2 linked regions of the Homo sapiens genome follow. The protein of the gene in region 1 purifies or fractionates together with the protein of each later gene. This does not show direct contact. Each region holds a gene or a part of one and is shown in the gene's direction. Other genes may lie near its edges. The genes, in order: CTRL and ANKRD40.

What was found.
Region 2: the proteins of CTRL (region 1) and ANKRD40 purify together in Homo sapiens (affinity purification with mass spectrometry; 3 studies listed by BioGRID and IntAct, with this or other methods). This does not show direct contact.

Annotation. Positions count from the first base shown.
Region 1 is NC_000016.10:67,919,516-67,935,997, reverse strand, and holds CTRL (chymotrypsin-like protease CTRL-1 precursor), read left to right. Parts: upstream 1-4,135; 5' UTR 4,136-4,145; coding exon 4,146-4,197; intron 4,198-4,796; coding exon 4,797-4,900; intron 4,901-4,998; coding exon 4,999-5,078; intron 5,079-5,190; coding exon 5,191-5,272; intron 5,273-5,409; coding exon 5,410-5,590; intron 5,591-5,679; coding exon 5,680-5,813; intron 5,814-5,902; coding exon 5,903-6,064; 3' UTR 6,065-6,424; downstream 6,425-16,482. Other genes in the region: PSMB10 (proteasome subunit beta type-10), read left to right, coding at 1-35, 301-416, 520-578, 1,050-1,201, 1,327-1,438; PSKH1 (serine/threonine-protein kinase H1), read right to left, coding at 8,356-8,673.
Region 2 is NC_000017.11:50,704,915-50,715,415, reverse strand, and holds the start of ANKRD40 (ankyrin repeat domain-containing protein 40), read left to right. Parts: upstream 1-7,501; 5' UTR 7,502-7,761; coding exon 7,762-7,895; intron 7,896-10,501.

The DNA of each region.
Region 1 (16,482 bases):
ACGGTCACTCGCATCCTGCGCCAGACGCTCTTCAGGTGCGGGGGCAGGGCTAACAGGACCCCGGCAGGGGTAGTTACGGGGTTGGGGCCATTGGAAGGCGGGACAGAAAGAAGGGCGGGACCGCGACGGGCCAGGTGACCGGAAGAGGCCGGCCCAAGAGAACCTGGGCTACAGGAAAAGGCGATGTCAGTCATCGGGCGCCAGCCCACAGGAAGGGGCGGGGATAGCACCTAGGAGCTGGGCATAGAGAGGTGGGGCCTAGGCCCCAGCTTGTGGCCGACCCCGCCCATCCTCGAGCAGGTACCAGGGCCACGTGGGTGCATCGCTGATCGTGGGCGGCGTAGACCTGACTGGACCGCAGCTCTACGGTGTGCATCCCCATGGCTCCTACAGCCGTCTGCCCTTCACAGCCCTGGGTGAGCGCTTCTGTCCCTTCTCCTCGAACTCTGCCCCTGTGACCTTGGCCTCACTCCAAACGGCGTCGCAGCGGTTGACTTCAGATGCTTCTCCTGCCTTCAGGCTCTGGTCAGGACGCGGCCCTGGCGGTGCTAGAAGACCGGTTCCAGCCGAACATGACGGTGAGCGGCCTCTGTCCCCGACTTTGTGGTCGCTGGTGGGATGTGCACCCGGGAGCTGGGGGAGCACAGGACCCTGGCCCAGTGCGGGTGGCTAAGGCTTGTCGGAGGAGGTGACCACTGAAGGGTGAGTGGAGTAAGGGCAGAGAAGTGCGGTCCCGACATAACACCGTCCAATACCAAAGCCTGCACGGCTGGGAGAAGTCGAAGCTCACAGAGGATCTTTAGGAGCCGAGGGCGGAGAGAAGGACCAGTAGGGTCCTACTTATATCAACGTCTGGAGCCTAGATTTTGTTTGGGGTGGGATGGAAGCAGGTGATGTTGCCTCAGAGGTGGCTAAGGCTCAGAGGGAGAAACACAGTGGGGGTTTGGAGGGCAAGACCAGATTGGGTAAGTGGACAGGCAAGTCCCCAGGCTGTAGCCTAAGTTAACAGCAGAGAGAGCCCGTTAGGTCTCACACACCCATCACCGCAGCTGGAGGCTGCTCAGGGGCTGCTGGTGGAAGCCGTCACCGCCGGGATCTTGGGTGACCTGGGCTCCGGGGGCAATGTGGACGCATGTGTGATCACAAAGACTGGCGCCAAGCTGCTGCGGACACTGAGCTCACCCACAGAGCCCGTGAAGAGGTGAGAGCTGGAGATCGGGGACCACAGGGATGTGTGGGGCTATAGCAGGGGAGATAGGGGGCTGCAAAAAGGGGATGGGCCACATGACAGGCCCATGTTCAGAGGCTGTCCCTCCTCCCTCCCAGGTCTGGCCGCTACCACTTTGTGCCTGGAACCACAGCTGTCCTGACCCAGACAGTGAAGCCACTAACCCTGGAGCTAGTGGAGGAAACTGTGCAGGCTATGGAGGTGGAGTAAGCTGAGGCTTAGAGCTTGGAACAAGGGGGAATAAACCCAGAAAATACAGTTAAACAGATGGCTGTGTCATTCTTGAGTGGAATGGGGTGGGCAGGCAGCCAGCAGGGCTCTGTAGCTAAGGCGTCCCTGCAGGGGCCATTACCTACCATAGCTCTAGTGTCTGGCCTAAGAGATGCCCTTCACCCATAACCTCAGGCACCTACAACTCCAGAACCCCAGCCCTGGCCAGCATTGCAGGCTTGGTCTCCACCCAAACCTTCCTTCTGACTCCACACTTGAAGGCTCCCCCACCACTCCACTGTCTTGCTCTTGCCCTCTAGTCCACTGGAGACTTGTAAATTATGAAATACCCCATGTACTACCCCCTCCTAGAGACTTTCCATGGCTCCTCAGTGGCCCAGGACAAAGCTCATACCTTTCAATCAGGCCCCCACAGGCCCCACTGAGGGCTAAAGTGCTGACAAGAGGAGCCGCTCCCTGACTCCAAGGCAAGTTCTCACCAAGCACTCCTCAACCTCGCAACATCTTTACCTGTGACACCCCTTAGATGACGAGGCATGCCTGCACTGCTCACGTGAAGCTCGTCTTCTGTCTGCACATGCTGGGCTTGTGACTCCAAGTTTTCCAGGCTAATAAGGGTCACAGGACTCACATGGGGAGAGATGACACGTTTCTCCAACAAACCTTTGCTGGGCCCCTGCTGAGTCTCAGGCCTGGCTGCTGGGTGCCAGCAAGAGCATCCTGTCCTCAGCGAGAACGGCTGAACTCCGCTGGAGCTTCAGAAATGTCAGGGAGAGTCTACCCAGGGCCCAGGGAGGGTCTATGCCGGGCTGCACATCCCCAGGCCGCTGAGTGTGCTCCCTGCACCCCAACATTCTATTAATGAACATTTGTAAATGTAACAGAAAAGTAGAAAGAGTTGTATATTGAATACCCTTATACTGTCAGGTCACCACAGACCTGACAGTATTTTGTTATATTTGTTTTATCATCTATTCATCCCTCTATCCATTAATTCATCGCTCCTTTTTTTTTTTTTTTTTTTTTTTTTGAGACGGCGTCTCGCTCTGTCACCCAGGCTCTGGAGTGCAAATATTTTGTTATATTTGTTTTATCATCTATTCATCCCTCTATCCATTAATTCATCGCTCCTTTTTTTTTTTTTTTTTTTTGAGACGGAGTCTCGCTCTGTCACCCAGGCTCTGGAGTGCAGTGGCGCAATCTCAGCTCACTGGAAGCTCCGCCTCCCAGGTTCACGCCATTCTCCTGCCTCAGCCTCCCGAGTAGCTGGGACTACAGGTGCCCGCCACCACGCCCGGCTAATTTTTTTTTTTTTTGTATTTTTAGTAGAGACGAGGTTTCTACTGAACCTGTTAGCCAGGATGGTCTTGATCTCCTGACCTCATGATCCGCCCGCGTCGGCCTCCCAAAGTGCTGGGATTACAGGCGTGAGCCACCGTGCCCAGCCAATTCATCTCATTTTTTGGCTGATGCTGTTTCTTTGAGATGGGGTCTAGCTCCATCGCCCAGGCCGGAATGCAGTGGTGCACTCATGGCTCACTGCAGCCTTGAACTTAAGGGCTCAAGTGATCCCTCCTGCCTCAGCCTTCTGAGTTGCTGGGACTACAGGTGTGTACCATCATACCCAGCTCATTTCTTAATTTAAAAAAATTTTTTTTGTAGAGACAGGGTTTCATGATGTTGCTCAGGCTGGTCTCGAACTCCTGGAATCAAGCCTCCTACGTCTGCCTCCCAAAGTTTTGGGATTACAGGTGTGAGCCACCACACCCAGCCCTGATCTGTTCTTGAATCAGTTAAAGCCCTCACACTCCCAGAAGGCCGCCAGCCAATGCACCTGTTGGAACTTTGCACACAGGGTGTCTTCTCCCTTCAAGCTTGGTCTGCAGCTCAGTAACAAATGGGCTACAGACACCAGGGGCTTGCCCATGGGAGCCCCAAGGCCTAAAGAGGGTGGCAGAGATTTGATGTCTGTCACTCTCCACCTGCAGCCTCAGTCCACGGTCGGCCAGGCACCAAGAGCTCACACTTTGCCCTCCTAAATGCCAGGCCCTTCATAAGTATCATCTCATTGTTAAGAGCGGAGGCTTCAGCGCCAGACAAATGCGAGTTTGTGTACAACTCAACCACGTGCTGGTGGGAGAGTCACCATCTCTGAGCAGACCTGTGACTCCTGTTCCAAATGGACGAGGAACCACTGCGATGATGTGTTAGGACTCCCAGCCTGCCAGAACCTCACAGCCCCTGGCCCTTCACAGCAAAGTTGACCGCAGTGAGCATTCCATCCACCAGTCAGAACACCCTGGACGCTGAGCGGCCTTCTCTGAAAGCCTGGTGCCTTTGTTAGCCCTGGGTGACTCCTGTGATCCCAGCCACCAGGTTGTCACTATAGACCTAATTTAACCATCTGTCCTCAGTACCGAGGGCTCAACATTTGGAATGGGAGGTGGTTCTGGGAGCCAATTAGAGGCCAGGCTTTGGGAGGTGGCAGAGGTGAGTCTCACACCTGGGCTCTGTCTGATAAGTCTAGGTCTCGGTCAGGGGACCTTGGCCTAAAGGGCCTGTCTTGCCTGGAGCGTGGGAGGGGGCTGAGTCTACACAGCTGGCCTGGCCTCAGGCCTGGAGCTTTAGCTCAAGGACGAGAAGACCCATAAAGCCAGACCCAGCTCCCAACCTCACATCTGCCACGATGTTGCTGCTCAGCCTGACCCTAAGCCTGGTTCTCCTCGGCTCCTCCTGGGGTGAGTGGGCCAGGACCAGCCCTGATTCAGCCCTGGGAGCAACTCAGCTCCCAGCAACAGCCCAGGGAAGGAGCTAGGCTGGCTGGAAGGGACGAAGGTGGACAGAGTGGGCAAAAGAAACAGGATATGCCAGGGCAGTGGAGCAGGGAACAGGCCTGCAGGGCTGGGAGGGGGCAAGAGGTGGGGTGGTCTCACAAATAGGACCAGAGATTGAGCCAGGCCCTGGAGCCCGGGAGGGTTTAGGAAGCTGAGACAGGAAGACCTGTCCATGTCTTTTAGAAAGAACCTTCTGGCTGCATGAAGGGTATGAACTGTTCAGGTCGGGAGGGGGCAGAGAGACCAGGGGTAGAGATGGGGAACAGCGGGGACTAGGCTGGAGACAGATGTAGGAGAACAGCAGGGCTGGGGGACTGGGTGGATAGGGATAACCAAGATAGCTGTGGGGCCCGAAGGTGCTTGCATGTACCCTGTTGGGGAAGGGGTAGTGCTGTACCCTCTCGACAGACCTCTCTGGGGTGCACAGCCTGGGGCACCCAAAAGGAGGTGGGGAAAGATGGGCTGAGGCATGGGAAGCAGGTCCTCATTAGCCCAATGGCCAGGCTGCGGCATTCCTGCCATCAAACCGGCACTGAGCTTCAGCCAGAGGATTGTCAACGGGGAGAATGCAGTGTTGGGCTCCTGGCCCTGGCAGGTGTCCCTGCAGGTACACCACCAGAGGGGTGGGCAGGGTCCTGGGTACGTCATGCCTAGGGGCAGCCTCAGCAGCCCACCCCCACTCTGACCTCTGAGCCCTGACCACAGGACAGCAGCGGCTTCCACTTCTGCGGTGGTTCTCTCATCAGCCAGTCCTGGGTGGTCACTGCTGCCCACTGCAATGTCAGGTGAGTGCCTGCATTCCACCTGCCCCGCCCCTCGCCTCTTCCTGCCTCCTCCCCTGGCTGTCCCCCTCTCGCGCTGGCCTCCCTGCAGCTGCCTAATCCCACCCCCTTGCAGCCCTGGCCGCCATTTTGTTGTCCTGGGCGAGTATGACCGATCATCAAACGCAGAGCCCTTGCAGGTTCTGTCCGTCTCTCGGGTGAGTGCCTGGGCTGCAGACACGGAGGAAAAGTGGGCAGTGCAGGTGGGTGGGTGCTGGGAACGAGGAATTCAGGACATGCCCTGGCCTACCCTGCTCAGCACCCATCAGAACATGGACTGTTTCTGACCCCACAGGCCATTACACACCCTAGCTGGAACTCTACCACCATGAACAATGACGTGACGCTGCTGAAGCTCGCCTCGCCAGCCCAGTACACAACACGCATCTCGCCAGTTTGCCTGGCATCCTCAAACGAGGCTCTGACTGAAGGCCTCACGTGTGTCACCACCGGCTGGGGTCGCCTCAGTGGCGTGGGTAGGGACTCAGGCCAAAGCTCAGGGTGGGAGGACTGGGGTGGGGACCAGTGTTCTGGGCCCCATGTGACCACCCCTCCTGGCCCACAGGCAATGTGACACCAGCACATCTGCAGCAGGTGGCTTTGCCCCTGGTCACTGTGAATCAGTGCCGGCAGTACTGGGGCTCAAGTATCACTGACTCCATGATCTGTGCAGGTGGCGCAGGTGCCTCCTCGTGCCAGGTAAGCCCCAGCACCCGCTCCTCTGCGCTGTCCTGTGGTATACCTCCCCAACCCCCCCTACTCAATTCTCCCTCCCTCTTCCCTCTCAGGGTGACTCCGGAGGCCCTCTTGTCTGCCAGAAGGGAAACACATGGGTGCTTATTGGTATTGTCTCCTGGGGCACCAAAAACTGCAATGTGCGCGCACCTGCTGTGTATACTCGAGTTAGCAAGTTCAGCACCTGGATCAACCAGGTCATAGCCTACAACTGAGCTCACCACAGGCCCTCCCCAGCTCAACCCATTAAAGACCCAGGCCCTGTCCCATCATGCATTCATGTCTGTCTTCCTGGCTCAGGAGAAAGAAGAGGCTGTTGAGGGTCCGACTCCCTACTTGGACTTCTGGCACAGAAGGGGCTGAGTGACTCCTTGAGTAGCAGTGGCTCTTCCTAGAGTAGCCATGCCGAGGCCGGGGCCCCCACCCCTCCTCCAGGGCAACCCCTTGGTCCTACAGCAAGAAGCCAGAACTGTTGGAATGAATGGCAGCCCTCCCTGGAGAGGCAGCCTGTTTACTGAATACAGAGGATACGTTTACAAACTGAATACGCATAATAAATAACTGCACATTCTCCATCCACAGGCCATGGCATGAAGGCCCAAGTGGGTCTATCAAAGGCCCACATCTCCAAACCCCCTGTCCTGCCCTCAGGACCAGGCCCACCCTGGGCAAGAGAGAACGTAAGCCCCAGGGCTTCAGGTCCCCAGAGACACTTGGGGAACTGGGGGGAAATTCTGAGGCCATGGGGCTTGGTTCTCCACTGCCTCCTGCCCAGGGGGCATTGGGGACGGTAGGAGGATGTGTCTAAGGCATAGTCGACTTGGCACAGAGTGGTCTCTTTAGTTTTGTTTCCCACTGGAGGTGGCACATGCAGGAAAAGGGCCTGGCCCAGGCTGCCGACCGGCAGAAGCTGAGTGGGAACCAAACCCTCCTGCAATGGCAGGGGCCCTGCCGTCAAGCTAAGGCCAAAGCTGGGCCCTGGCCCCATTCTACCCACTGAAGGCAGCTGTGGAGGAAGGGGCTTGGGTTCCAGCCTGGTTTGTGGTAGGGGGAGATACCACAAAAGAAATGGGGATGGTTCTGGCTCAGGCCTCTGGGAAAGCAGCCACCCAACCCCACCCACCTCCCGCAGGGGCTCCTTCCAGCTTGAGGCTCAGTGGGACCCAGACTGGAAGGTTAATGCTGTGAAGGGAAGCAGCACAGGGTGGACGGGGCAAGGCCAGCTGTGAGAAGGCAGTGCCCCTGGCACCCTGGTTTCAGAGGCAGGTCACACAGTATGGCTAAGTTCCAGGGAGGGGTGCGCAGAAGCTCAGCAGAAGGGGAGAGGTGAGCAGCCCGGGACCCTCCCCCAGGGCGGCAACTCCTACCTTCCCATGTCCTCATGGAGGACTACAGGTGTGCACCATGGGTGGGTGTGCACGATGGGCAGGTGTGCACGATGGGCGTGCAGTGATCACTCCCAGGCTGCCAACACCCATGCAGACACCAGATGGCGCCTTCGTGCAGCTGCAGAGGAGGGAGCAACAGAGCCTGAAGGGAAAAGGCAATGGGGCTGCACCAAAGGATAGAACCCAGGCTGACACTCGACCCTAATCGGGAGGACCCCCTTCCCTCTGCCTTGGCCCCCAGGTGCCCCATTCCCCAGGTAGCAGCAGTGGGGCTCCCTTTAACCACCCCCAGTTGGGAAGGAGGCACCTGGGGAATGGAATGGACATCCAACGGGGAGAGGGAGGTAGCGGTGGGCTCTACAAAGAAGGCACCAAGGGCGGTGGGCTGAGACCCCTCAGAATCTGGAGAGGCTGGAGCCTGGGCAAGCCGATGACCAGCATGGCCACACAGTCCAGAAGGGTGAAGGTCCACGCCATGGCCCTCCACCAGAGGTCCTGGGACCAGGAAGGCTCCCTGGAGGCACCATGAAGGAAGACAGATCTTGGCTGGGAGGTGGAGGGCTGTTTCGACCTAGCCAGGGGCTACGGGTCCAGTCAAGGCACAAGCTTTGTGCCTACCAGGGTCTCCCACTGGAGCATAATCTTAAGGATCAGGATGCATGGGAATGTGTGAAACCAGGGAGAAGGGCTCTGTGGAGGAAAGGGGGTCCCAGAAGTAACTGTCCCAAAGGGTCCTGAGGCCACAGGACACTCCACCCAGCACTGCAGTTCCCTTTGATTGGGGAAAAGTCAAAGGGCAAGGGAGACAGTGAAGGCCAGGTCCTATCCCTTCCCAACTCCACCAGAGCAGCTGCCCACCAAGAGGGGTATCAGTGCCAGGCCAGGCTCCCAGTTCAGGGGGAGTCACAGCCCCCTGTGCTACCTCTACTCTGTCACACCTGGCCCAGGCCCATGGTGAGGACAGGGGCTGCTGAAGGCACAGAGAAAGGGCTGGAGCCAGACATTCTTCACCTACTGTGGGCCACATAGGCCTATCTCCAGAGAGGGCATCGGACCCAGATGGCACCACAGTGTGTGGCCAGGCTGGGTCGTGCTGCATGTGTGCACAGCCAGGCGGCTCAGCCATTGTATTGCTGCTGGTAGCGCAGGTTGAGCTCCCGCAGCTCCCGTTCCCGCACACGGCGTGACTTATTGGAGCGTGTGGAGCGGCTGGAACGCGTGGACTGGGCAGATTTGGTGCTCTGGCAGCGCGAGGAGGCACGTTTAAGGAGGTTCTGGGATATGGAGCGGTGCAGGTTCTTCATGGATGAAGAGGCAGCCATGCTCACCACCCACGGGTGCCTCAGGGCCTGCAGTGCAGTCATACGGGCTCCAGGGTCCACTGTCAGCAGGCGGTCAATGAAGTCCTTGGCCAGGTTGGACACACTAGGCCAGGGCTAGAGACCAAGGACAAGCATTAGAGTGAGAGCATCTGACACTGCCCACCCCATCTGGATGAGGCCACTACTCAGCAACCCTCCCCTTTCCAGAGAGAGGTGCTGCCCCTCCTCTCATGTAGCACTTGGGGCCTCCCCGCCCAACGCTGGCTCAGGCTGAACAAGGGCTGCTCTCCAGGTGATGGAGTCTGGCAAGGAAGGAAAGGACCTGTGCACTCTCCCAGGGAGCAAATTCTATGGTGCACTGGACCCAAAGCCTGGCTCAGGGAGATGGCCTCTGCCAAGACCCCCCCGAACTTGTCCCAGGAGTATCATAACTCAGGGGACTGTTAGAGAATGATTCAAACTTTCCCACCACATCCTAAGTCAGATTGAAGCTCCAATCTCTGGATGACCAGGATCAGGCTACTTAAAGGGGAACTTCCTAGTCCTTACAGAGAAGATCCAACCTCTCTCCAACTGCCGAAGCAGTGGCAGAAGACCACTGCTCCCTGCCTCTGCCTCCCGGCATGGGGAGGAAAGGAAACAATTCAAGGCAACTAGATTTCCCAGTCGGCTGAGGGCAGGCGATCCCGGGACCAGGAAGGAACCAGGACCCTTCTCAGTGGCACCCTCTGGCCCGCATTACTTCTCTAAGCCACAAAGGGCTCCTGGCAGTGCTGTGCGCCAGCCTCATTTTAGTACATTCTGTCCCCTGGGAGGAACTCCATAAAGCCCACTCTGCCACATGCACCCCGGGCTGCCTCATCTCAGCCCCGAACCCAGCAGCTGTCTGTCTCAGGGCCTCAGGTTGTACGGCTGTCTTCACCTGACTGGATCCTCAGGTTCTCAGGGTAAAGGACACTTGCTCAGACTCCCTCTTAGCCCCCAGTGCTTCCAGCAATTATTCCAGCTGTAACGTGAGACTGCAATTTCATGTTCGTTTAGTATTCCCATGAGATCATGCTGAGCTGGATGAGCCCGTGCCTGGTGCTGCGCATACAGGAAGCACTCAGTAGGCACAGGCTCAGACAGTAAACAACCCACGGTGCTGCCGGATGGGTGCCCTTTCCTGGAGCTGCTTCCAGGCCTTGGGGCTCAGCCAGGTGAGTCCTTGCGTCCCTGCATCTCCTAGGAACACTTCTGGCACGGGCTCTGAGGCTCCCCCAAGGATAGGCAGCTAGGACCTTTCCTGAGCCTGCTGCAGATGACTCAACAGGGATGCTAACGATCCCCTCACTTTCCTTCCTGCCAGGTGAGGTCTGCCTGTTCCACCCATGGTACCCTTCACCACCCATGGTACCCTTCACCTTGAGGAACCCCTGAACATGCCCTCCAGGGGGTTCAGGAGGATCTGAGAGACCACCTTCAGGGCAGGTGCACAGCCATCTAGCAGACACACACACTCACTGACTACTGCTACTCCCAGTCTGGCTCGCCTGACCTCCAACTCTTTCCCTACCCCCTTCCCCACTGCCACAGAGGGATGAGGCAGGGAGAACACGCTTCCACCGTCCTGAGGAAGGCCTGGGGCTACCTGCAGCTGCTGTCTTCACCCACTCTTTGGAAGGTTATTCCAAGTTTTACTGAGCTGAAGTGGGAGCAACAGGGGAACCATATTCCCAAACACACCTAACAGGGTCATCCTCATCAGTGGGCCAGCAGCACCCAGTGACTCCTGGGGAGATGCTGGCCCCCAGGAGGAGGAAAGTCAGGGTCCAGGAGCATGCAGCCAACGAAGGCCCATAGATGCCTTACTATCCAAGGGCTGTGGGTGGGCGCAGAGAGCAACAGCCCTCCCCGACAGGCAGGTAAGTCTCCTGGGGGCTTGTGTAGTTCAAGATTCATATTGAGGGCCAGGCGTGGTGGCTCATGCCTGTAATCCCAGCACTTTGGGAGGCTGAGGCAGGTGGATCACAAGGTCATGAGATCAAGACCATCCTGGCCAACATGGTGAAACCCCGTCTCTACTAAAAATACAAAAATTAGTCGGGCGTGGTGGCGTGCCTGTAGTCCCAGCTACTCAGGAAGCTGAGGCAGGAGAATTGCTTGAACCTGAGAGGCGGAGGTTGCAGTGAGCCAAGATCGCACCACTGCACTCCAGCCTGGCAACAGAGCGAGACTCCGTCTCAAAAAAAAAAAAAAAATATTCATATTGAGGTATTAAGGCCAATATGCAGGGCAACTGGACTAGACAGCTGCCACAATAGCTTTTGGATCACAGCTCAAGAAAACCCCAAAAGCCAGGAGCAGTGGCTTCCGCCTATAATCCCAACACTCTGGGAGTCTGAGGCAGGAGGACTGCTTGAGCCCAAGAGTTCAAGATCACCCTGGGAAAGATGGTAAGACTCCGCCTCAAAGAAAAAAAAAAATTAATAAATTTTTTTTTAAAAAAGAAAGCTCCATGGTTGCCTCCTGAACACAAGGAACCACTACTGGGGGCAGCCAGTCCAGACCACAGACATTCACTGTAGCCCCCATCACCCACCGGAGAGACAGAAAGAAGCTTGATGGAGACAGCACACACACAGCTGAACAGAGTGGGTCAGGGGACACCTCTGCTGCCTGCTGGCCTTCTACAGTCTCCAGGAAGAGGAGGACTCACTAGGAAGCAGGCTGCAGCTCAGTCTGGCCTGTTGCTGGAACAGCCCCAAGACAGGGCTGACAGCCCAGGGTGTCCCAACAGGGCTGGGAAATGGATTCTGCCCCTGCCCCTTGGTCCAGCCAAGACAAAAGAGGGGCAACTCCCCTACAGAGGCCAGGAGCCTGAACATGGATGGACTGGAGGTTTCACCACTTCACATCCACACCCAGCGAAACCGTGGACCTGAAACTCCAAACCAGTCACCAGTGCAGTCTTGGAGGGGCCTCTCCCCAGACCAGCCCTATGGTCTTAAGTGTCTCCATCTTCAGAGTGGCACAGGCTCACACCAGCAGGCATCAACCCCTGCTGCTCATGGAGCGGCCGGCCTGTTAGTGCCAAAGCGAGCCAGATTGATCCCTCTCCCCGCTGCTCCCCAAGATTCTCGCCTCACCAATTACTGTGGGCATGTGGCTGTGCGCAGAATGCAGATGGACTCATTTGTCTGAGGGCTGGCCTGGCCTCTCTGGCAGGTCCCAGCTCTTCCCATCTTTGAAGAGCTGTGAGCAGCTAGGCCAGGTGGGTCCCCCAAGCCAAAGTGACTCAAGTCGTCCTGAACTGGTCCCCAGCCTAACCCTTGTACACAGAGGAAAGTCAGGCTGAACACAAGAAGGTGGTCCTCATCCAGCTGACAGTGAGGCAGGGGCTTAGGGTGACCTTCAGAATAGCAGCCTCTGGAAGCCCTGCTGAGGCCTCCCACAGGGCTTAGAAAAGTAAGGCTTTCCACACTCGCCCACAGCCAGGCTTCAGGCCTCACATCAACTCAGCACCTCCTAAGAAAGCACTCAACGCCAGCAGCCCAACCCACCTGCTTCCCCTGGAGCCACGTAAGTATGTGTGTCAGCCAAGGGCTGACTGGCTGGGAAGCATTCTAAGCAGGAGAAAAGGGAAAATGATGAATAGTCATGCTCTTCAGTCTCCACAACTCTGTTTGTTCTAGGTGAAGAACTGAACTCGTGCCTCAGTATACTTATTTGAGCCATACCAGGGACACACATGGCCTCAGTTGGCTGACAGATGGCACAGGTGCCAAGACCCACCTGGGCAGTCTCTGAGGCTTCCACCTGCTTCTGGGCCGACGTGGAGCACGAGGCACAGAGGGAAACACTAAGATGTCAGCTGGCTCTACGCCCAGACTCTCAGGTCTTCCCTTGCTCTGGGATCAGAGAACAGCTTCCATACCCAGGGTGACAGCCTCCACTCTCTCCTTTCCACAGTCTCTGGGCAAGTCAGTGGCTCACACCTCTAATCCCAGCACTTCGAGACACTGCTGCGTGAGTGAGGGCTGGGTCCTGCTTCAAGAGGAAGACAAGCAGGGGCTGTAGGAGGAGGGCATCACCTCTGCTCTGATTCTGACCATCAAGCTGGCTGCCTTCCTCCTGAGTCCATGGCCCTCAAAAGAGTCCTTTTCCCCTTGCAGTTAGGGTACCTGCTCCTGATGTTGGAACAGCAAAGATGCCAATAATGGGTATGGGAAGCGACCTCTTCCGTGAGCACCTCCTTACCAACTAGCCTTCCTCATCCCCCTACCCATGCTGGGCCAAAGCCACTCCTAGGCAGTGGAGTCCTACTCCCCCTGGAGAGGGAGAGGCAGCACAGCAGGAAGGGCTTTCCGCTCCCGCCTGAGGACCCCCCGCACCAACCCTTTTCGTTTGCTCTAGCTCTAATGTCTGGCACAAGGGCCTGGCATGAACACTACCCAAGCCACTGCCAGCGGTCTCACCTGGAGCCTAAGGGCTAATGAAACAAAGAACAGCGCCAGCTCTCTAGCAGAGGCTGCAGACAGAGGAGGAAGCTGCTTCTTTCTGGCAGCAAACACAGCTTACAGGGCGGCCCTAGACTTCCTCTGGCAGGCAGGGCTGCCTACTGGCAAGTGAGGCTGGGAGAGAAAGGCCCCTTGGTGTGTCTTCTGAGTGGCATCTGGGATACGTTAAAGGGTTAGATTGCAAGCCCAGCAACCTGAGTTCTAGTTCTACCTTCTCTGTCGGCCTTAGAGAAATCACACCGCCTTCACTTTTAACACGAGGAAGGGGCTGAATGTCATGAACTCTAAGTCCCTTCCAGTTTATAAACTCCTGGATTCCTTTTTCTCCACCTTTTCCTTCACGTGGCCACATGTGAAGCGCAGAGTTTAGCATTTAAGCTGACCTCTTGAGCCCTGGGTTCCTTATCTAACCAATGATGATTCTGGGGCAGGCTGGCTGACAGAGGAGGTGGCCCCACCACAGTGCTTCTAGAGAAGGGATGGGAAGGGAGGAAGAAGCCTGGGCTTTGCTACCATGACTCAGTTCTTCCCTCAGCTCTATTTCAAGATGTATTTTCAGACCCACTATTCCCACCTTCAAAGGCCTCCTTTCTGTACTTACGTGGGCCTGAATGAGAGCAGAGAAAAGGGCACAGAGGAAATTCTGGAAACAGAGCTTTGAGTTTACTCAGGAAAGCAGCATGACAACAAGAACGGCACCCTGTCATGCTGCCCACGACGAAGAGCATCAGCAGAATTAGACACTGTGTGGCAGCAGAGCCAGCATCCCCTCCTGTGGTCAAAAACCCATCATCCTGGTGCCTGGGCTTCCAGACCAGACAGAATCTACCACCCTGGGACTCGGCAGAGGGCGGGTGAGGGGCAAGCAACAGAAAAGGGAAGGGTGTGGGGGGAGAGAGCCTGAGGAGAGAAATAGAGGGAAGATAATGCAGTTTTAAAAACAAGTAGAGAATTAAAAAAAAAAAAGCAGAGAATAAAGATTAAAATGAGAAAAGGTGTGACAACTTAAAGGTTAGTAAAGCTGTGTTCTGAAACTTGAAATGGATAACAAAATGAAATCGTGTGCCCCCACCTGTCCCTGCCCAGAGCCAGAGTGGAGGGGAAGGAGAGGAGAGAGACAGGACACAACTCAAGATCGAGAAGGATGCTATTTGCTCGCTTTGCAATAGGCCTGTGCCACCAACATAGCGATGTCTGCTTTTAACAATGTCCTGGAGTAGCCCTGGAAGGTTCCAGATTTAGAAGCCTGCTGCAGCGTGATCTCTTTTATCTACACTCATCAAGGGTTCCGCTGAGGCCAAGTGGTTCCCAGGGCCCAGCCTGGTTTTTTGATTTTTGTTTTTGTTTTTTTTTTTAAGAGAGACAGAGTCTCACTCTGTCACCCAGGCTGGAGTGCAGTGGCGCGATGTGCAATCTCAGCTAACTGCAACTCCGCCTCCCAGGTTCAACCGATTCTCCTGCCTCGGCCTCCCAAGTAGATGGGACTACAGGTGCATGCCACCATGCCTGGTTAATTTTTTGTATTTTTAGTAGAGACGGTGTTTCACCGTGTTAGCCAGGATAGTCTTGATCTCCTGACCTCAAGATCTGCCCGCCTCGGCCTCCCAAAGTGCTGGGATACAGGCGTGAGCCACAGCACCTGGCATTATTTTTTTTTTCTTTTTTTGAGACGGAGTTTTGCTCTTGTTGCCCAGGCTGGAGTGCAATGGAACCATCTCACTGCAAACTCTACCTCCTGGGTTCAAGCAATTCTCCTGCCTCAGCCTCCCAAGTAGCTGGGATTACAGGCATGCACCACAATGCCCAGCTAATTTTGTATTTTTAGTAGAGATGAGGTTTCACCATGTTGGTCAGGTCGGTCTCAAACTCCTGATCTCAGATGCCACCCACCTTGGCCTCCCAAAGGGCTGAGATTACAGGTGTGAGCCACCGTGCCCAGCCTTTTTTTTTTTTTTTAACTTCCTCCCATCCTAATTTCTGAGGCAGTTTGGAGGCTCAGTGACTGTAACCATCTCATCCACACTGCAGTCTCTGTCCCTGGAACCCCAGGCTTAGGGCCAGTGGTAGGTCAATATGGGATGGAGGAAGAATGAAGAGATGAATGTGACTAAGCCTTCTGCTCCAAGCTGGCTGGGCCACAAGGGAGCAGAGCTCTCTGGGCACCACACATCTACCGAGGGACGTCAGGCACGATGGAGAAGGGTAACCTTGTGTGATGGGAGGACTGACTAGGGAAGGTGAGCTTGGAGAGGCACAGCCAGTGAGGATGGCTGGACCAGGTCACCATCAGCTATGCCATGCAATTGAGAGCCAGCCTCCACCTCAGTAGGTGTGGGAGGAGGATGAGCATGGGATGCTATGAGTGGATCTAAAGAGGTCAGGGCTGGGCACAGTGGCTCACGCCTTTAATCTCAGCACTTTGGGAGGCCGAGGCAGGAGGATCACTTGAGGCCAGGAGTTCAAGACCAGGCTAGGCAACATAGACCCTATCTCTACAAGAAACCTAAAAAATTAGCCCGGTGTGGTGGCCCACACCTGTAATCCCAGCTACTCGGAAGGCTGAGGCAGGAAGATGGTTTGGGCCCGGGAGTTTAAGGTTACAATGAACTATAATCACACTACTGCACTCCAACTCTTGTTCCTCTACAACAAGACCTTGTCTCTATTAAAAAATAATAATAAATAAATAAAGAGGTCAGAATGTGGGAGAGATACAGTCCAGCAGCTCCCAGAGGAACTTGAGGGCCCAGAAGCGACAGAGCCTGTGAAAGGCAGTGCTCTCCAGGTGGAGACAGACAATGAAAAGACAGGAGAGGGAGGGGATGGCTGACGCACCAGGGATGGCTCTGAGTGCAAGCCACCACACCCTGCTCTTTGTTGGCCAGGCCTCAAGGGCTGGAGGTGGAAAAAGTGATGAAAGGCAGCTGTGACCCAGGGTGACGTGATGCTATGGGTGGTCAGCAGGAACGGCTGAATGCAGCAGCGTGGCGGGTGGGTCTGCTCCTGCCACTACAGGGAAGTTGCTGCTTTCTGGGGTGTATGCAACCAGGGCAGCAGTGACAAAGGGAAACCTAGAGGACAGGGCTCTGGGGAGCCCAGTGGTGGCACAGAGGTGACACAAGATGGGGCTGCTGCTCTTCTCCACTCAGAGCTTCCTCTGGCCTCACATGGAGAGAGCTTCCTCTGCCTTCCTGCCAGAGGTCTCCAACCAAGGGCAGGTCCCCAGCCACAGTGACCAACTGAGGGTCCACTGCCTCCATCCAGTGGCCCAAACCATGCCACCTCCCAGTGACTAGTCAGGAATCCAGCCTGAGGGCATTGGCTCCTGCAGTGAAGGAGGGAGACTTAATCTGTTGAACACTTCGTGTTTTGGTGAAGTGGGGATGGCTTTTCCCAAGGGAACCTTCCTGGCCAGGTATGGGGG
Region 2 (10,501 bases), on another chromosome or scaffold:
ATTGCTTGAACCCAGGAGGCAGAGAGTGCAGTGAGCTAAGACCATGCCATTGCACTCCGTCCTGGGTGACAGAGTGAGACTCCATCTCAAAAAAGAAGAAAATGTTATGGGCTGAACTGTGTTCCTGTCACCTCCAAACTCATATGTTGAGGCCTAATTCCTGGAACCACAGAATGTGACTGTATTGGGAGATCGTGCATTTGAAGATGATGATGAAGTTAAAACAATGCTGTTAGGTTGGGCCATAATCCTATCATACTGGCGTCCTTATACGAGGAAATTTGGATACACAAAGAGGCACCAAGGATGCACTTGCACAGAGAAAAAGCCACGTGAGGACATGGTAAGAAGGTGGCCATTTACAAGCCAAAGACAGAGGCCTCCAGAGAAACCAAACCTGCCAACACCCAGATCGTAAACTCATAGCCTCCAGAAAATAAAAATCTCATTTGTTTAAGCATCTAGTCTGTGGTATTTTTGTTATGATAGCCCTAGCAAGCTAATATAGAAAGGAAGCTGCAGTTACTACAGGTCTTCTCACTGCTTCCCAGCCTCCCAGCCTCCAGTGCGGGCCCCTTGACCCCATCCTCCATCTATCTTGCTGCCTCAGTCACCTTTCTTTTTTTTTGAGACGGAGTCTCACTCTGTTGCATAGGCTGGAGTGCAGTGGCACGATCTCGGCTCACTGTAACCTCTACCTTCCAGGTTCAAACAATTGTCCTGCCTCAGCCTCCTGAGTAGCTGGGACTACAGATGCACGCCGCCATGCCCAGCTGTTTTTTTTGTTTTTTTTTTTTTTGTACTTTAGTGGAGACAGGGTTTCACCATGTTGCCCAGGCTGGTCTCAAACTCCTGAGCTCAGGCAATCCGCCCGCCTCAGCCTCCCAAAGTGCAGGTATTACAGCCATGAGCCACCACGCCCAGCCATCAGTCACCTTTCTAAATGTAAATCTAGATGTGTCTCATCCCTGCTCGAAAGGCTCCAACTGGCCAGGTGCAGTGGCTCACACCTCAGCACTTTGGGAGGTCGAGGCTGGTAGATTGCTTGAGCTCCAGAGCTTGAGACCAGCCTTGGTGATGTGGCGAAACCCTGTCTCTACTGCAAATACAAAAAGTAGCTGGGCATGGTGGCACGCGCCTCTATTCCCAGCTACTCAGGAGGCTGAGGTGGGAGGATTGCTGGAGGCCCAGGAGGCAGAGGCTGCAGTGAGCCAAGATGGCACCATGCATTCCAGCCTGGGTCTCAAAAAACAAACAAACAAACCAACAAACAAAACGCCTCCAACCTTAGAGGCGATGGCTCCCCATCATCTCCACTCTAAGGTTCAAACACCACAAGGTGGTCTGTGCTCTGACCCCCTTCTCCAACTTCATCTGCTACTGCTTCCAGTACTTGGAAGACCCTTGATTCCTGCATTTCACCATCTACGTTGCTCCAGGCATGGAAAGCTCTTCCACTCCAGCAGCAAGCAACACCTACTCATCCTTTTTTCAGAGACGGTCTCACTCCTGCCTCAGCCTCCTGAGCAGCCGGGGTTACAGATACGAGCCCCTACTCATCTTTCAGCTTACAGCCCCAGTTTCAGCAGCTCCACAACGCCACCCTGGACCCTGGCCCTCCACCTGCTACACACTGATCACCTTCTTTGTGCCATCATTTTACCTGAAGCATCCTTGCATATTTTTGGGTTTGTCACACGATATTGCAAATAGCAATTTCTTCCCTTAGAATGAAAGGTTTTTTGTTGTTGTTGTTGTTGTTTGTTTGTTTTTGTTTGTTTTTTAGGTCAGGTGCCAGCCTGGGTGACAGAACAAGACCCTGTCTCAAAAAAAAAAAAAAAAAAAAAAGGCAGGACCTTTCAGGTGTGATTAGGTCATGAAGGCAGAGACCTCAGGAATGGTATTAGTGCCATTCATAAATGAGGCCCGAGAGAGCTCCTTTGCCCCTTCTGCCATGCCATGTGAGGAAAAAATGAGAAGCTGGCAGTCTGCAACCCAGAAGAGGGCCCTCGACAGAACCTGACCATGCTGGTACCATGATCTTGGAATTTCAGCTTCCAGAATTGTGAGAAAAAAATTTCAGTTGCTTATAAGCCACCCAGGTTGTGGTATTTTGTTATAGCATCCCAAATGGACTAAGAAAGTCTGGTGGCTACCTGTACCACCTCACTGCACCTTTCCTCTTCAATGGCACCAGCAAGCTTGTGATGGTTAAACCCATTTCATGTGTTTCAGCCCTTTCTTTCTTGCCCTTTCTGCAGCATTTGACCCTGTGGATCACTCCCTTGTCTCCAAACCCTCCCACTCCTTTGCTTTTCCTCCTGCTAGTCTATTAATAGCTGCTCCTCTGCTCTCATTTGAGAATTTCTTCTCTTCTGTCCGTCATTAAAATGTTGACTACAGATGCTCCTCAACTTACAAAGGGGTTAGATCCCAATACGTCCATTAGGTTGAAAATGCATTTAATGCACCTAGCCTATGGATAGTTTGGCTCTGTGTCTCCACCCAAATCTCATCTAAAATTGTAATCCCTATGTGTCCAGGGAGGAAGCTGGTGGGAGGTGATTGGATAATGGCGGCGGTTCCCCCATGCTGTTCTCGTGATAGGGAGTGAGTTCTCAGGACATCTGATGGTTTAAAAGTGTGGCTCTTCCCCTTCGCTCTCTCGCTCTCTCTCCTGCCACCCTGTGAAGGAGGCGCTTGCTTCGCCTTCCCATAATTGTAAGTTTCCTGAGGCCTCCCCAGCCATGTGGAACTGTGAGCCAATTAAACCTCTTTACTTTATAAATTACCCAGTCTCCGGTAGTTCTTTTTTCTTTTTTTTTTTTTTAAACAAAGTCTTGCTCTGTCGCCCAGGCTGGAGTGCAGTGGCACAATCTAGGCTCACTACAGCCCCTTCCTCCCAGGTTCAAGTGATTCTTGTGCCTCAGCCTCCCGAGTAGCTGGGATTATGGGCTTGCGCCATCACACCCACCTAATTTTTGTATTTTTTAGTAGAGACAGGGTTTCTCCATGTTGGCCAGGCTGGTCTCCAACTCCTGGCCTCAAGTGATCATCCACCTGTCTTTGGCCTCCCAAAGTGCTGGGATTATAGGCATGAGCCACTGTGCCCAGCCTTAGGTAGTTCCTGATAGCAGTGTGAAAATAGACTAATATACCTACCAAACATCATAACTTAGCCTAGCCTTAAATGTGCTGAGAATACTTTAATTAGCCTACAGTTGGGTAAAATCATCTAACACAAAGCCTATTTTATAATAAAGTGTTGAATATCTCACGTAATTTATTAAATACTGTACTGAAAATGAGAAACAGAATAGTTGTTTGGTTACACAAAGTAAGGTTTCTACTTATTTTTGCACTTTTGTGTATCACTTTTGCACTGTTGTAAAGTAAAAGAATCCTAACTGCAACCATCATAAGTTGGGAACCATCTGTATTCTTCAGTCTTTGGCTGTCTTCTTTTTAAAAATTATTTATTTACTTACTTATTTTAAGACAGGGTCTTACTGTCAGGGTTTCACTGTGTTGTCCAGGCTAGTCTGGAACTCCTGGGCTCAAGGGAATCCTCCTGTCTCAGCATCCTGAGTAGCTGGGATTAACAGGAACAAACCACCATTCCTGGCTGTCTTCAGCAGTCTTTTTTTTTTTTTTTTTTTTTGAGACAGAGTCTTACTCTGTTGCCTAGGCTGGAGTGCAGTGGCATGATTTCGCCTCACTGCAACCTCCACCTCCCAGGTTCAAGTGATTCCCCTGCCTCAGCCTCCTGAGTAGCTGGGAATACAGGTGCGCTCCACCACACCCGGCTACTTTTTGTATTTTTAGTAGAGACAGGGTTTCGCTCTGTTGGCCAGGCTGGTCTGGAACTCTGACCTCAGGTGATCCACCCTCCTCCGCCTCCCAAAATGCTGGCATTACAGGCATGAGCCACCGCGCCTGGCAGGAGTCTTCTCTCAGCACTCACAGACTCCCTTGGGGCTATCTCTTCTATTCCCATGACTTCAGCTAGCACCCTTTGCTGACTGCCAAAATACAAATCACCAGCCCAGATCTCCTTCCTAAATGCAATACCCATTCACATAACTGTTTACTGAACATATCCATTTAAATGAAAATCAGAAAAGAAAGCACAGGCTCAGAAGTTGAACTTGAGTTCAAAGCCTTGCTCCATCACAAACTACGATGTATAGCATTGGGCAAGTTTGTTTATTTATTTATTTATTTATTTTTGAGACAGAGTCTCACTCTGTTGCCCAGGCTGGAGTGCAATGGCGAGATCTTGACTCACTGCAACCTCTGCCTCCAGCACCTGCCGCCACGCCCATCTAATTTTTGTATTTTTAGTAGAGACGGGGTTTCGCCATGTTGGCTACGCTGGTCTCAAACTCCTGACCTCAGGTGATCTGCCCGCCTCAGCCTCCCAAAGTGCTGTGATTACAGGCATGAGCCACCGTGCCTGGCCAGCACTGGGGCAAGTTAATTACCTCCCTGAGCCTCAGATAATAATGATGGTCCTGTTTTACAGAGGAGTTGTTGTGAGGATTAAATGAGATAATCCATGTACAGCACTTCCTGCAGCACCTGGCAATGAGTTGATAGTAGCAGATAGTAAAGAGTAGTAGTAATTAAAAGGTCTCAGAAAGTTCAAGTCAACAGATTCAAAAGTGAATTCATGACCAAACCTCAAACCTTCTCTTCATCCTTTGTCCCAAATCTCAATAAATCACACCACCATCTAATCATCCAGAAACCCGAACATTATCCTTGTTTCTTGACCACCACTGCCCTCCCATTCTGCCAGGTTAAGTTTTCCTAACGTAAACCTTGTTGTAACCCACCTATGATCCAATGAATGTTTAAGATGTCTAGGCTTTGCACATATCCATTCATTCAATCCATAGAACAATCCTGCAAGGTGGGTGCTACTATTATTCCTGTTTCGCAGGTGCAGAATTTGAGGCACAGGAAAGTTGAGTAACTCATTCAAGATTATATGAGTGGCAAAGCTGGCATACAAACCCAGGCAGTCTGGCGTCTGTCTCCACACTCACTACCACTATGCCACATTGTTTCTATTGTAATGCATAGCACATTCTATTGTTCGCCTTGTCTCCCCTGATAAACTGTTCTTCAAAGTCAAGGACTCTGATTCATTTGCAGCAGCATCCTCAGTGACTAGAACAGTGCCTGGCAAACAGCACATGCTTAATACAGTTCAGTGAGTTAGGTAGTTCCCTAGAGACAAGACAGAGTAGAGATAAATGGAAGTAGTAATAGAACAGCCAGCAGGTTACATTCAGTTATATCCAAGATCAGAAGTTTTGTTTGTGGATAAAATTTTGTTTTTTTTAATCTGAAGATAATAAACAGAAGACTGAAATCAGAGTAAGTAGAGGTTGAGTTTAAGAAGATCTACTAATATTCACGGATACAGCAGTTATGTAGGGTACATGCTATAATCCTTTTAAGGAAGGGACATTTGACAAACTCTCATAAAGAGAACTCATAGACTTTGGGGGCCGGGCGCGGTGGCTCATGCCTGTAATTCCAGCACTTTGGGAAGCTGAGGCGGGCGGATCACCTGAGGTCGGGAGTTTGAGACCAGCCTGAGCAACATGGAGAAACTCCGTCTCTACTAAAAATACAAAAAATTAGCCAGGCATGGTGGAACATGCCTGTAATCCCAGCTACTCAGGAGGCTGAGGCAGGAGAATCGCTTGAACCTGGGAGGTGGAGATTGTGGTGAGCCGAGATCGCGCTGTTGCACTCCAGCCTGGGCAATGAGAGCGAAACTCCTCCATCTCAAAAAAAAAAAAAAAAAAAAAAGAACTCATAGACTTTGGGGTGCAGTCACGAACAATTTTTTTTAACTGCATTAAAAACAAAAAACAACAACAACAAAAAAACAAAAACAGGCCAGGCGCGGTGGCTCATGCTTGTAATTCCAGCACTTTGGGAGGCTGAGGCTGGCAGATCACATGAGGTCAGGAGCTGGAGACCAGACTGGCCAACATGGTGAAACCCCATGTCTACTAAAAATACAAAAATTAGCCGAGCATGGTGGCACAGGCCTGTAATCCCAGCTGCTCGGGAGGCTGAGGCAGGAGAATTGCCTGAACCTGGACTTAGAGGTTGCAAGGAGCTCAGAGATCGCCCCACCGAACACCAGCCTGGGCAACAGAGTGAGACTCTGTCTCAAAAACAAGCAAACAAAAACAACAAGCCACTACCTACTCCCATGTCACTGAAATTGTGTTGAAGGACTCAAATCCAGTGCCATACACATCAGTTTCAGATAGAGTATCATGCTGGATGTGAGAATTAAAATTTAAATTGGGGGAACAAATGAAAATGTAAGCTCAAGCAGGGTTACAATTTGCCATGGGGGTCAATTTAAGTGTGTAGTCAGTTTATATTCAGCACCACCTGGTGTGCACTGTGTACTGTGTGAATTACTGTATCATACTAAACAAACAGACATTGGTTTTTCTTAAACTGTAGCAAGAAAAATGCTTGCTGTGCAGATCCCAGCAGCCCCAAGAGACGGAAATGAAAACTCCATGCCTAAATTTATCCCTTCCTATTTCATCTCTCCTTGTTCAGGCCTTCCTCCCTTCCTCCCCAGGGCTATTTCCTTAATCTTGACCCCATCTGTAAAGTTCCATCCTGTGCCACATCGGAGGATCTCTTCAGGGCACCTGGGCTCAACAAAACAATATTTCCTTTTTCTCCCACTGGGTATAAAACAGTGCCAACTGAGGCTCTGAGCCTCATTAGATAGATCGGGCAAGAAGTGAAGCAAAATGCTGTTTACATGTACACCACAGCTCTTCCCAGAGCACTTGGAATCAGGACCAGGACACCTCCAAAGCCTCTTTGGTGTTTTTCCTTTCTTTTCTCCTTATATGGCCTTCATGAAGAGTAACTAATTACAATCTGTAAGCAGTAATTACAGTTCATAAACTGTGAGCACAATATAAATATTTTTCCTGAAAGCCAGGTTAGAAGAAATCCTGTCTAAAATGAGATGTAAAACAACAACAATTGAAATAAATATTCTAACTGAATTGTCCCCAAGCACTGTCAAAAAGAAGAAGAGTCTAATCTATCTCTGTAATAATGGGCGTATTATAGTAGGATCGTTTTCAGCCCATTTCCCCATCCTGCTGGGCACGAATTGGCTCAGATAAGGAAAAGGAGCCAACCAAACTGGGGGAAAATAACAAAAAAACCCCAAATCCCAATAAAAAGAACCCACCAATTATTTTGGATGCCTGGTAAACAGCCTGCACCAGAGGATAAGGCTTTTCTGGCCCTCAGCTATGCTTTTTTCTCTTTTCATGTGTCTTGTCCTCCTCCCTTGAAACTGCGGGGTGGGGAAGTCTAAAAATAGTCAATGAATCATGGCATATAATATTGTGCAGTAGTTACATAAACAGCCAGCCCGGGCGCCGGAGCCCCGGGTCGGAACGGAAAATATCTGGGTCAGCGTTGTCACACTGAACAGGGTCCCCCGGAGCCGGCCTTCGGGAGGCGCGGCCCGGGAGGAGGCCTGGGCCTGCGGGCCGGGAGCAGCAGGGGCGGCCCGCGGGAGGGAGCGGAAGTCCCGGGGCGGGCGCGGGCAGCGGCGCGAGCAGGGCGGGCGAGTTCCGCGCTCCCTCCCCATGGCCGGGAGCGGGCCGCGGCGACGGCGGCGGCGCTGACAGGCCCCGGGCGGGGCGGGGCAGGCGGGCCTGGGCGGGGGCCTGGGGCTGTGGGAAGATGAACGCCCTCCTAGAGCAGAAGGAGCAGCAGGAGAGGCTGCGGGAGGCCGCGGCCTTAGGGGACATTCGGGAGGTGCAGAAACTGGTGGAGAGCGGGGTGGATGTGAACTCCCAAAATGAGGTCAACGGCTGGTAAGTGGGGAGCGGGGGAGGCCTAGGGTCAGGGCAGCCGGTCGGAAGGCGTGGGGCAGTCAGTCGCGACCTGGGCCCAGCGCGGGACGCCTGGCTACGGCGAGGCCTGCCACCTCGGGCCTCCGAGATTGTGCTCTCTTGAGGCCAGCCCTGGCCCCCATGCCTCGTGCGGTCGGGAGCGCGTCCTGCCCAAATCCCGGCCCACGTGGTCCACTCGGGGCAGCGCCCACTGGGACTCTGGTGCCCTACCCCCTTCCCCCGCGCTCCCGGCTCACTTGGTCAGAGCGGTGCTGGAGGCAGTGATTCTCAGCGACTATGCGTTGGAGCTCACCCCAATTCGAGTGTTGAGTTAATTTGCCGTAGGTGCTTCTGGAGAACGCATCTTGCAGAGCTAAAAGCATAAGCAACTGAGCAAATATGAATTTTATAAACTAGCACGATTTCCTTAGCCAAGACCAGGAAAAAAAAACACATTTGCATCACCATTCTGCTTCTCTGTTGTTTCACTGCAACCGATTTGCTGCTGCTGCCTGTAGTTGCCTGTTTGAGGGAAAACTCATTTGTTTATCCTATCGATTATTTTCTTTCTTTTTTTTTTTTTTTTTTTTTTTTTTTTTGAGACAGGGTCTTGCCCTGTCGCCCAGGGTGGAGTGCAGTGGCATAGTCTCGGCTCACTGCAACTTCTACCTCCCCGGCTCAGGTGATCCTCCTGCCACAGCCTCCCAAATAGCTGGGAATACAGGCACGCGCCCCCACACCCGGCTAATTTTTTTTTTTTTTTTTTTTGGTATTTTTGGTAGAGATGGGGCCAGGTTGGTCTCAAACTCCTGGCCTCAAGTGATCCACCCGCCTCAGCCTCCAAAAGTGCTGGGATTACAGATGTGAGCCTACCGTTCCTGGCCAGTTTTCTTATTACAATTTCAAATACAGAATGTCACCCAAGACTTTAGATGTCTGCCTGCAGATTGAATTCTTCCCAATTAAATAAGGAGTCTCATCTTAAGATGTTGCTGGTGGTCAAAACAGAAAGTTACTGAATGTGGCATTATTCCGCTCTCTGCATTTAAAATTTAAAATTTTGATTCAGGTAATGCTTAGCCAGACTATTTTGCTAGCTTAGAGTTAAAGTGAGTAGCACTTTGGGAGGCTGAGGTGGGCGGATCACGAGGTCAGGAGATCAAGACCATCCTGGCCAACATGATGAAACCCCGTCTCTACTAAAAATACAAAAATTAGCTGGGCGTGGTGGTGCATGCCTGTAGTCTCAGCTACTTGGGAGGCTGAGGCAGGAGAATCACTTGAACCTGGGAGGCGGAGGTTGCAGTAAGCCAAGATTGCACCACTGCACTCCAGCCTGGGCGACAGAGCAAGACTCTACCTCAAAAAAAAAAAAAAGTGAGTTTACATTTTGTTTTTTTAAGTGGAATCATCCATTTTGGAACTGAAAGGGACAATGGAGAGAGGCTCAACCACAGAGAATAACTTGCCCTAGGCCACATAACTATTAATATGATAGCACCAGAACCATGGTTTCCAGACTGCCTCAAAAGTCTACCTACCTGGACCTGGCGCGGTGGCTGACGCCTGTAATCTCAGCACTTTGGGAGGCCAAGGTGGGCAGATCACGATGTCAGGAGTTCGAGACCATTCTGGCCAACATGGTGAAACCCTGTCTCTACTAAAGATACAAAAATTAGCCAGGGGTAGCGGTGTGTGCCTGTCATCCCAGCTACTTGGGATGCTGCAGCAGGAGAATCACTTGAACCAGGGAGTTGGAGGTTGAAATGAGCCAAGATCACACCACTGCACTCCAGGCTGGTGGCAGAGCGAGACTCTGTCTCAAAAAAAAAAAAAAAAAAAGTCTATCTTCCTGGTAGGACCTGGTGGCTCACGCCTGTAATCCCAGCACTTTGGGAGGCCAAGGCAGGAGGATCACTGGAGTCCAGAAGTTTGAGACCAGCCTGGGCAACATAGTGAGATCCCAGTCTCAAAAAAAAATTTTTTTCTACCTAATTTCCCTAAAGAAAACAGCCTGGACAGCTGTCCAGAAGGCCAGGAAACAGTGGATACTACCTTTTTGTTCTGTTTTTTTTTTTTTTTACAGGTCTTTGCAAACTTGCTGTTGTGTATGTAACCTTTTCTCAGCATTCCTCTGGTTCAAAGCTGTGAATTACCATTTTGGCACTGGGAGGCGGTGTTGTGTAGAAGGAGCCTGGTCTTTCCTGCAGGTTCTCCTCCATTCCTGCCTAGCTATGGGACTTTGCCTGAGATGCTTCATTTTCTACTTGTTCCAGAAGAGTATTGTGAGCCCTTAATGAGATGAAGCATAAATAGCTAACATTTATTGAACTTGCTTTGCAGCACAGATAGGATAGGGTTCTTTTTTTTTTTTTTTTTTTTGAGACAGAGTCTCGCACTCTCGCCCAGGCTGGAGTGCAGTGGTGCCAGGTGCCATCTTGGCTCACTTCAAGCTCTGCCTCCTGGGTTCACGCCATTCTCCTGCCTCAGCCTCCCGAGTAGCTGGGACTACAGGTGCCCGCCACCACGCCCGGCTAATTTTTTGTATTTTTAGTAGAGATGGGGTTTCACCGTGTTAGCCAGGATGG